Regions from separate parts of the Homo sapiens genome. Here region 2 is linked to region 1. The links come from fine-mapping of genetic effects on gene expression. A gene starts in region 1. The other region holds a variant in brackets. All regions are shown on one strand. Distances are between the middles of the regions.

Evidence for each region.
Region 2: its variant is fine-mapped to the expression of DYNC1LI1 in whole blood (TOPMed, PIP above 0.99).

What each region holds. Positions count from the first base shown.
Region 1 is chr3:32,568,884-32,574,262 of GRCh38, forward strand. It overlaps DYNC1LI1 (dynein cytoplasmic 1 light intermediate chain 1), which reads right to left and starts at 1,975. Exons shown (of 13, transcript NM_016141.4): 1 at 1,742-1,975; 2 at 1,463-1,536. The coding sequence starts at 1,887. RefSeq lists an enhancer at 1,183-1,968 and silencers at 1,243-1,732, 1,913-2,172.
Region 2 is chr3:32,514,705-32,520,083 of GRCh38, forward strand. No RefSeq gene overlaps it. Among named protein-coding and RNA genes, the nearest start is that of MIR548AY, 11 kb to the left of the region's middle. The variant G/A (reference allele first, on the strand shown) is at 2,567.

The DNA of each region.
Region 1 (5,379 bases):
ATTAGTAAACTAAAAATATATTATACAATTTTTTTTTGCTTTTGGATCCTAATTTATTTTTGCCCTATGAATATCACTTATGTAGGCACTAATTCAATTTTTTAAAAAGTTCTGATCACAAATATTTTCTAATGCAGTTTAAGATAAATCCATGACAAAGTATCACTTGCAAATATTACCACGATACAAACATTAACTCATTTGATTCCCGCCACAACCCTAGAGGCAAGTATTATTATTTCTATAACAACCATTTTAAAGATGAAGAAACTGAGGTTTATAGATGTCAAGCAACTTGCTTAAGATCCTAGGGCTTATATGTGATAGGGCAGTGACTCAATCCAGGCTAATCTTCAGTAGGTGCTTTCAACCACATTAAAAACAAGGGTAAAAACTAATTTTTCAACTAGCTCCATGTAGCTTTAAAGAATATCAATAATCATATATTCTTGCTTGGCAGCAGTCTATTAAAAAAGTAATTTTTTCTATGTAAACATTCATATTTAACCACGCAGCCTATCAAGTAGTATTTGACTTCTTGTTTCCTGTTTTTAGATGGATATAACCAAAACAACAACAACAACAACAAAAAACTCTGGTATTGAGCCGACACCAAATACCAAAGTTTTTAAATTTAATCATCGTATAAGCCAAACTTCAGTTATCTCGCATGTAAAGAGCTATATAGAGAAATTTCTCCTATAAATGATTCAGGAGCTAAGCCTAGAAAAATGCGAATCTGCGAACTATTCTCCCTCAGTCCTCTATCCCCACCCCCAGAGTCACTAAAGAAACAGAATACACAACTTCCAGAGAGCCGAGGAGATACAGAACAATCAGGAGAACTGACACTGGACCGTTTCTCCTTATTACATCCATTTGGCTGAAAAGACTTAACTAGAAAGTTGTGTTCTACTGCCCTTTACAAATTTCAGAATTATATGTGACAGTTAAGGTAGCTGCAACACGAGCACATTGTACCAGAGAACGCTGAATCAAGAACATTTATCGCCAGGTCTTAGTTCTAGCTTCTGTCAATTATACAAAGAGTCAGCTATTAAATATTAATGGCATGCCATTTGCGCTGCAGCTCTCGCAAAGAGCCTCCTGCTACCAATTTTTGTGATGAAAGAAAACCTGTCATTTTCTAGATAAACCCCAGGCCACGAGAATCCCTCAGATGAGCGATCGAATTCTGTCCTTCCCAGGGGAAGCTGTCAGGGCCACCCCCATATACCGGGGAGGAGGAGGAGGAACCTGAGGGAGGGCGGGTCCCCGCAGGTCCTGGGTCAAGGGTCTCGTGTTCCCCTTCTCTCCCAGCCATCCGCGACAGGTCGGGAGGCGAGGCGGGGCGGGGCTGGGCCGGCTGTCCGCACAAAGAGAGCCAGCGAGCTAGCCCGCGGACCAGGTACCCCGGGCCGCTGGGGGCCGGGCGGGGCGGGGCGAGGCAGGGAACACTTACCCAGCAGTAGCACGTTCTTCCCCGCAGGGAGCTTGGAGCGCGAGCGGGTGGAGACCTCGCTGAGGATGCAGGACCTAACGGGAAGCAAGGCGTACGGTGAGGCCGGAGGCCGGAGCCGCAGCGCGGGAGGGACGGACCCGGCCTCGGCGCGCCGGGGATGGGGCTGCCGGGAACGCAGTGGCCGGGCCCGGCGCCGAGCTCCAGCGGGCACGGGATCCCGAGGCGTCCGCGCAAGGCCGGGGGAGCCAGCGGGGGCTGAGGGAGAGGTGGAGTCGTTACCAAAGGTTCTGCCCGTCCTCGTCGTCGCCTGCCGCGGCGCCACCGTTGCCCGACGCTATCTCGTTGCCCAAGGGGCCGCCAGTGTAAGTCGAGGATAATCCCGGCGGAGAAGAACCGAAGGAGCCGACTCGCCCCACGGCCGCCATCTTGGTCGGGAATCACACCACTCCCGGCAAGACTAAATGTGCGAGGCGGCTGAGGCGGTGGCGGTGGAGGCGGCGGGAACCCGGATATGGGGCGTTCAGCGCACGGGAGCGGGGCGGGGCCTGCGGGGGCGGGGCCCCGGGCCGGGCCAGGACTGATGGAGCGAGCGAGAACGGACTGCGCGTGCGTGGCTGCCTGGCCGGCGCTGAGGGGCTGAGCGTACGCGGGCGGCGGGGTGGGCCGCTATGCTGCAACTGAAGCCCAGTGATCTGACAGTATGGAAGTGCTTTCCTTCCGCTCATCCGCGGCCCTGGGCTGCGGCAGGGGGGTTGGGTGTGTCAGGTGAAAAGTGCTCCCTCCCACCCTTCAGACAGGTCCCCAAACCCTGCGGCCTGCGCGGAATTCCTGCATTGTCATTGCCGGCCCACCCACTGTTCAGGCTGAGAGCGGTCCCCCGCCCAAACCGGCGCTTCGCCGGCGCCAAGATAGAAATGGGTCGCCCGGCTGGTAAAGAGGCTGCCCTGCAACCCTGGGCTGGAGTATTGCTGTGGTCCTGGATTTCTGGACTTTATTTGCGTTCTCAAGTGGCGAAGTGTTCCTCAACCTGGACCCACATCAGAAGCAGGTTCTCCGAGCCCCTAAGCAGCGGCGTGACAAAGTAATTGTTTACCCTGGAAATAGACTGTTATTTTTTAAAAATTATTGTCAGGGCTTGCTTTAATGTTCTTAATGTTTTTGTATGAGATCCTCCATGTGAGATTTGAAAAGATCCACTATGCGGGTCATCTAACCGGTCACTAGACATTGATTCCACACTTACTACGTCGAGCACAGTTGACACTGGGAATACATGGATGGACTTATACTAGCCCTAAAATAACTCCTTTTCTATTAGAACTTTACTAGGTAAAGGTATTTGAATGTCTGAACTCCATGTTTAGAAGGAGTCATTGGTTTTAAGGCTCTGTCCTAGTACACCTGTAAGAGCATTTGCTTAAAATTGCCTGGCCTTTGTATGTTATCTCTGTCACTTCATATTTGAAAATCACTTGCTAGAATATGGCCTGATCAATGCTGTTATGCTAGTGAGAAAATCCACAACTAAAGACTATTTGCTATATATTAGCATTACGGTTAGAAGTCTGGAAGCCTTTGGAGGCTGGCAAATCTGAGTTCAGGTCTAGCTCTTCGAGTTTACTGGCTGTGTAACCTTAGGCAATTTACTTAACCTCCGTGAGTCTCAGTTTCCTTATCTGTCAAATGAGGATAAAAGAACTTAGAGTTGTTATTGAGATTAAACGGGATGATTCATGTAAAATGGCTTAGAATAACGACTGGCAAATCTTAAGCGCTTACCACATGTTAATTGTTATCAATGACTTTCTTTACCTTTCACACCATTAATATCTGACCAACCTCTAGAAGTGATGGGCCTAAAGAACTCTTGGAGCTAAAATTCTTTGTCACCTGTAATGCCAGCGCTTTGGGAGGCCAAGGCAGGCAGATTGCTTAAGCCCAGGAGTTCTTGACCAGCCTGGGCAACATGGCGAAACCCCGGCTCTACAAAAAATTAGCCAAGCGTGGTGGTGTGTGCCTATAGTCCCAGCTATTTAGGAGGCTGAGGTGGGAGGATCACCTGAGTCCAGGAGGTCGAGGCTGCAGTGAACTGTGATCATGCCACTGCAATCCAGCCTGGATGACAGAGCAAGACCCTGTCACTAAATAAATAAATAAATAAATAAAATAAAACTTTTGATTTTGTTGTTTATATACTTAAGAAAGGAACCAGAACCCTCCCCAGTAGTCCTACACTTTCTGTGGCACAAAGCAGGATGGAGACCCCCAGGAGAAGCTGAGTCTTTATGTTACTGTTCTAAAGGAGAGCTGTATACTGCTCTTGGCCCCTCTGAAAGCCATTTTACTCTGTACTTTATTCTTTCAGTCATCTTCCTCAGAGCATTTTCCCCTCAATTTTGTTGTCAGTTCCATATCATATTTGCTTAGTCTGAGAAGTGTTTACTTTTATAATAGTGTCAGGCTTCAACACCTCATGACTTCCAGATGCTCAACTACCCACCTAAATTGAGGTCAAAGTTGTATTCCTTGTGGTTTTATAATATCCCTATCCAGCATTCTTCCATTAAGGTGGCTGACAAAAGTGGTCATTTATGAATGCCTACTATGTGCCAGGCACTCTGTGTGTTGTATTTGCAATCCTCATACTTTGTAAGGGTCAGCAAAATTAAGTAACCTACCCCAGGTCACACAGATCAGAAGTTTATAGATAAGCTGAGATTTTTTACTGTCTAGTCTGTAAAATGACCTAGGCCAAACCATGTTAAAATAAATGTCCTCGTAATTTTAGATGCTATTCTGGTAAATACCTTCTGTGAAAACCTCTACATTACAAAAATAGGGAAGCTATATATTATGAGGAAGTCTATAAAAGGAAATAATTCATCAGTCCCTTGGAATTTTTGTTGCATAAATGCTGTTTTATAATTGACCTGTTTTCTATACTATGATTGCTTTTTCTTTATTGCCCAATGTTTTCTTACATCTAAAATTAATAACCATCTTGTTTTTCTTTTTTCTTTTTTTTTTTTTTTTTTTTGAGACGGAGTCTTGCTCCATCGCCTAGGCTGGAGTGCATTGGTGCGATCTCGGCTCACTGCAACCTCCGCCTTCTGGGTTCAAGCAATTCTCCTGTCTCAGCCTCCCGAGTAGCTGGGACTACAGGTGCCTGCCAACACACCTGGCTAATTTTTGTATTTTTAGTAGAAACGGCGTTTCACCTTGTTGGTCAGCCTAGTCTCAAACTCCTGACCTCAGGTGATCCACCCGCCTTGGCCTCCCAAAGTGCTGGGATTACAGGCGTGAGCCACTGCGCCCGGCCAACCATCTTCTTTTTCATTTGCTTAGATTTCCATGTCTTTAATTCAGTTTCAAATTCCCGTCCCAGCTGTGTAAAACTCCTTGTTAGGTATTTTAACAATTTTACCTTCTTAAAGACACCTTTAAGAACCTTCTAGCCTGCTCCATTCTGAGTTGGTTATTCTGAAACTGAATACACAGCTGTCATCCTGTGATCTTTCACCATTGTTCAGAAGATTCCCTTTGCCTCAATCTTGTGTCTTCTTGTTTTAGTGGAGAACTTCCCCCAATAGTTTTCTGATAAAAAGGCTCACTGGTAAGTCTTTGGACACCAGTGTATCCAGTCAAGGTCAACCAGAGGAAAAATGGCATTCTTAAGGGGGTGCTAGAGGAAAGCTTAATAAAGGGACTGTTTACAAAGGTGTGAACAGTGTGAAGAGATAGGACTAGCAACAGCAGGAAGCCTTAGGCTTGAAAGGGATAGAGGAAGGAATGTTTACTAGAATCCAGAGAGAGATGCAGCTTATAGGAAAGTGTTGCCCACCAAGATTTATAGTCTTCAGTAAAGGAACACAGTATCCATCCCTTTCTTTCTGCCCCCTGGTCTCCCACCAGTGTTG
Region 2 (5,379 bases), 54 kb before region 1:
ATAATCAGTTTAGAATTATACTTCGGGATGTTTCCAAATAAGGTATTCATATGTCTTAGCCATTTACTAGGCCACGTGGCTCAAGAAAGAAGAGGTGAGAATTCTAGCAAATTATCCTATACTATACATAGCTTGAATTTCTCCCTAGGGTTTATTAAAGTTTAACCTATTATAATGAAATATTCACTCATTTTTCCTATAATTTTATAAAATGATAATGATCACAGGATAAGTCTTATACATTCAGCAGGAATTGGCTGGCATCATTTTCTACAATCTTATTTCAGCATGGGGAACATCTATTTAGTAAAAACATTAGTAACTGTTACATGAAGGAAGAACTCCCATATTCTGGGATTCTGCCAGTTTAGACAGCTAGTAATTTCTGTCTAAATGAAAGCCCCCAAGTGAGAAAACTATAGTGGATATTACCATTTGGTTCATTATTCAGTTCCATGAGGGGATTTATAAAGTGACATTTGATCATTCTACAGAAACAAATTTGACAGGTACTACAGCAATCTTACATGAACTCTTTACAAAGAACACAAACAGAATTGTTTTATGAAGTCAACATAATATTGATAAAAAACACTGACAAAAACATTAGGGGAAATGAAAATTACAGGTTAGGCTTTCTCAGGAGCATAATGCAAAATTCTAAAAAAAGTTAGCAAATCAAAATCAGGAATACAATACAACTAATATATTAAGATCAGCATAGGGGTTTTTCCAGGAATACAAAGGTGGCGTAATTTTTTTTTTTTTTTTTTTTGAGGCGGAGTCTCACTCTGTTGCCCAGGCTGGAGTGCAGTGGCACCATCTCAGCTCACTGCAACCTCCACCTCCCAGGTTCACGTGATTCCCCTGCCTCAGCCTTCTGAGTAGCTGGGACTACAGGCATCCGCCACCATGCCCGGCTAATTTTTGTATTTATAGTAGAGATGGGGTTTCACCGTGTTGGCCAGGATGGTCTCGATCTCCTGACCTCGTGATCTGCCTGTCTCGATCTCCCAAAGTGCTGGGATTACAGGCGTGAGCCACTGCGCCTGGCTGGCTTAATATTTTAAAAGGTAATGTAGGCCGGGAGCGGTGGCTCACGCCTGTAATCCCAGCACTTTGGGAGGCCGAGGCAGGCGGATCACGAGGTCAGAAGATCGAGACCATCCTGGCTAACACGGTAAAACCCGGTCTTTACTAAAAATACAAAAAATTAGCCGGGCATGGGGGGGGGTGCCTGTGGTCCCAGCTGCCGGGAGGCTGAGGCAGGAGAATGGTGTGAACCCGGGAGGCGGAGCTTGCAGTGAGCCGAGATAGCAACACTGCCCTCCAGTCTGGGGGACAGAGGGAGACTCCATCTCAAAAAAAAAAAAAAAAAAAAAAAAAGGTAAGGTACTCATACCATTAATAGAAAAAAAGAAAATAATCTCTATAGATGAAGACAGCATTTGATAAAATTAAACACCCATTCATGATAAAACTCATAGCATAAACTGACTAGAAAAAAAGCACTTCCAGGTGGGGCGCAGTGGCTCACGCCTGTAATCCCAGCACTTTGGGAAGCTGAAGTGGGCGGATCACCTGAGGTCGGGAGTTGGAGACCAGCCTGACCAACATGGAAAAACCTCATCTCTACTAAAAATACAAAATTGGCCCGGTGTGGTGGCACATGCCTGTAGTCCCAGCTACTCGGGAGGCCGAGGCAGGAGAATTGCTTGAACCCGGAAGGCGGAGGTTGCAGTGAGCCGAGATTGCGCCACTGCACTCCAGCCTGGGCAACAAGAGTGAAACTCCGTCTCAGACAAATAACAACAGAAAAAGAGCACTTCCTTTTTTTTTTTTTTTTTTTTTTTTTTTTTTGCCAGGACCTGTTCTCATCTGAGAGTACTTCCTTTTTTGATAGAGTCTCTACAGAAAGCACGCAGCAAATATACTTAATGGTGAAATATTGAAAGTTTTTACTCTGGGATGGGGAACAATTAAAGATGTTTCCTCTCACCAGTTCTATAATAATCTGTATTGAAGTATAGGTGTAATAAACAAGAAGACATTACAAAGGAAGAGATAAAAGTCATTATTTGCAGATTACATAACTACAGGTAGAAAAATCCAAAATAAATTACAGGCGAACCATTACATTAATAAATGAAGAGGTGGCCCGGTGTGGTGGCTCACGCCTGTAATCCCAGCACTTTGTTTGTTTGTTTGTTTTTGGAGACGGAGTCTCACTCTGTTGCCCAGGCTGGAGTGCAGTGCCGTGATCTCTCAGCTCACTGCAACTTCCTCCTCCTGGGTTCAAGCGATTCTCCTGCCTCAGCTTCCTGAGTAGCTAATCCCAGCACTTTGGGAGGCTGAGGCGAGTGGATCACTTGAGGTCAGGAGTTCAAGACCAGCCGGACCAACATGGCAAAACCCGGTCTCTACTAAAAATACAAAAATTAGCCACGCATGATGGCGGACACCTGTAATCCCAGCTACTCGAGAGGTTGAGGTGGGAGAATCACTTGAACCAGGGAAGTGGAGGTTGCAGTGAGCTGAGATTGCACCATTGCACTCCAGCCTGGGC[G/A]ACACAGGGAGACTCCATCTCAAAAAAATAAAAATAAAATAAAATAAATGGAGGTAAAGTTGCTGGATGAAATCAACATGAAAACTGTATTTATATATATGAGCAACAAAGTAAAATGAAATCTTAGGCCGTGTGTGGTGGCTCACGCCTGTAATCCCAGCACTTTGGGAGGCCGAGGAGTGTGGATCACCTGAGGTCAGTAGTTCGAGACCAGCCTGGCCAACCTGGTGAAACCCGTCTCTACTAAAAATACAAAAATTAGCCAGGCGTGGTGGCAGGCACCTGTAATCCCAGCTACTCGGGTGGCTGAGGCAGGAGAATTGCTTGAACCCAGGAGGCAGAGGTTGCAGTGAGCCGAGATTGCATCATTGCACTCCAGGCTGGGTGACAAGAGAGCCAAACTCCGTCTCAAAAAAAAAAAAAAAAAGAAATCTTAGAAGGATCTTATTTTATAATACCATCAAAACCAAATACTCTCCCAAAAAGCAACGAAAAGGAGACACAAGAGTACACACTGAAAACTACAAACATTGCTAAGAGAAACTGAAAAAAAACCTATATATAATAAATGGAAGACTATTCTGTGCATAGTTTGGCGATGTTGTAAAGATAACAGTTATCAGCAGGGCGCAGTGGCTCACGCCTGTAATCCCAGCACTTTGGGAGGCTGAGGTGGGCAGATCACGAGGTCAGGAGTTTGAGACCAGCCTGGCCAACATGGTGAAACCCCGTCTCTACTAAAAATACAAAAATTAGCTGGGCGTGGTGGCGGGCACCTGTAATCCCAGCTACTAGGGTGGCTGAGACAGGAGAATTGCTTGAATCCAGGAGGTGGAGGTTGCAATGAGCCGAGATCGCACCATTGTACTCCGGCCTGGGCGACAGGGCGAGACTCTGTCTCAAAAAAAAAAAAAAACAAAAACGAAGTAACATTTATCCCCAAATTGTTATCCTCAATGCAATCCCAATAAAAATGCCAGAATTTCTGTGGCAATTGACTAATTGGTTCAAAAGCCCAGAAATAGATGTTTGCATAAATAAACAGTCAAATTGTGACCAAGATAGCACTGCAGAATGGTAAAGAAAGGATGGTTTTTTTGGTTTTTTTTTTTCTAACAGTGGCATTGGATTAAATGAACATTTGCATTTTAAGAATGAATGTTGTCCCCTATTTCACACTATGCATAGAAATCAATTCCAAGTGGATTGTAGAAATGTGAAACAATAAAGCTCATAGAAAAATGAAATCATAGAATATCTTTATGACTTTGGGGCTAGCAAAGGCCTTTTTTTTTTTTTGAGACAGGATCTTGCTCTGTTGTCCTGGCTGCACTGCAGTGGCGTGAACATGGCTCACTGCAACCTCTACTTCCTGGGCTCAAGTGATCCTCCTTGTAGCCTCCAGAGTAGCTGGGACTACAGGCTCATGCCACCATGCCCAGTTAATTTTTAAATTTTTGGTAGAGATGAGGTCTCACTGTATTGCCCAGGCTGGTCTCAAACTCCTTGGCTCAAGTTGGCTCAAGTGATCTTCCCACCTTGGCCTCCCAAAGTGCTGGGACTATGGTGTAAGCCACCATGCCCAGCTGGCAAAGACTTCTTAAAAACAGGTTATGAAAGCAATAACCATAAAGAAAAGCTGATAAATTGAGCTATATTGAAATCAGTAGCTTGTATTCATCAAAAGACACCAATAAGAGTGAAAAGGGAAACCACAGAGTAGAAAAAGATATTTGCAATACATACCTGACTGGAAGCAGTATTCTGAATATGTAAAGAATGAGACAAGGCTGGGTGTGGTGGCTCACGCCTGTAATTCCAACCCTTTGGGAGGCTGAAGTGGGCAGATCACCTGAGGTCAGGAGTTCGAGACCAGCATGGCCAACATGGCGAAACCTCATTTCTACTAATAATACAAAAATTAGCCAGGTGTGGTGGTGCATGCCTGGAATCCCAGCTACTCAGGAGGTTGAGGCACAAAAATCGCTTGAATCTGGGAAGTGGAGGTTGTAGTAAGCCGAGATCACACCACTGCACTCCAGCCTGGGCAACAGAGTGAGACTCTGTAAAAAAGAAAGAAAGAAAGAAAAAGAGAGAGAGAGAGGGAGGGAGGGAGGGAGGAAGGAAGGAAGGAAGGAAGGAAGGAAGGAAGGAAGGAAGGAAGGAAGGAAGGAAGGACGGAAAAAGAATGAGACGATAAGAAAAAGTCAGGCCAGGCACAGTGGCTCACACCTGTAATCCCAGCACTTTGGGAGGCCGAGGCAGGTGGATCATCTGAGGTCAGGAGTTCAAGACCAGCCTGACCAACATGGAGAAACCCCATCTCTACTAAAAATACAAAATAGCCTGGCATGGTGGTTCATGCCTGTAATCCCAGCTACTTGGGAGGCTGAAGCAGGAGAATCGCTTGAACCCAGGAGGCAGAGGTTGTGGTGAGCCGAAATCACGCCATTGCACTCCAGCCTGGGCAACAAGAGCGAAACTCCGTCTTAAAAAAATAAATAAATAAGAAAAAGTCATACAGTCGCCCCCTCCGCCTCCAAAAAGGACAAGACTCTTAAACAAGTACTTTACAAAAGAGGATATCCAAAGGCCAGTACACATGAAATATGCTTAACTTCATTAGTTATCAAGGAAACACAATTTAAACCACAAGATCCTACCATACATCTGCAGAATGTCTAAAACTGCAGACAGTCAATAGTTTGTGTAGACAAGGATGTGGAGCAACTGCAACTCTCATGTTGCTGGTAAGTCATGGAAATTCTTTTTTAAAAAATTATATATAATTCACATAAAATTCACTTTTTTTT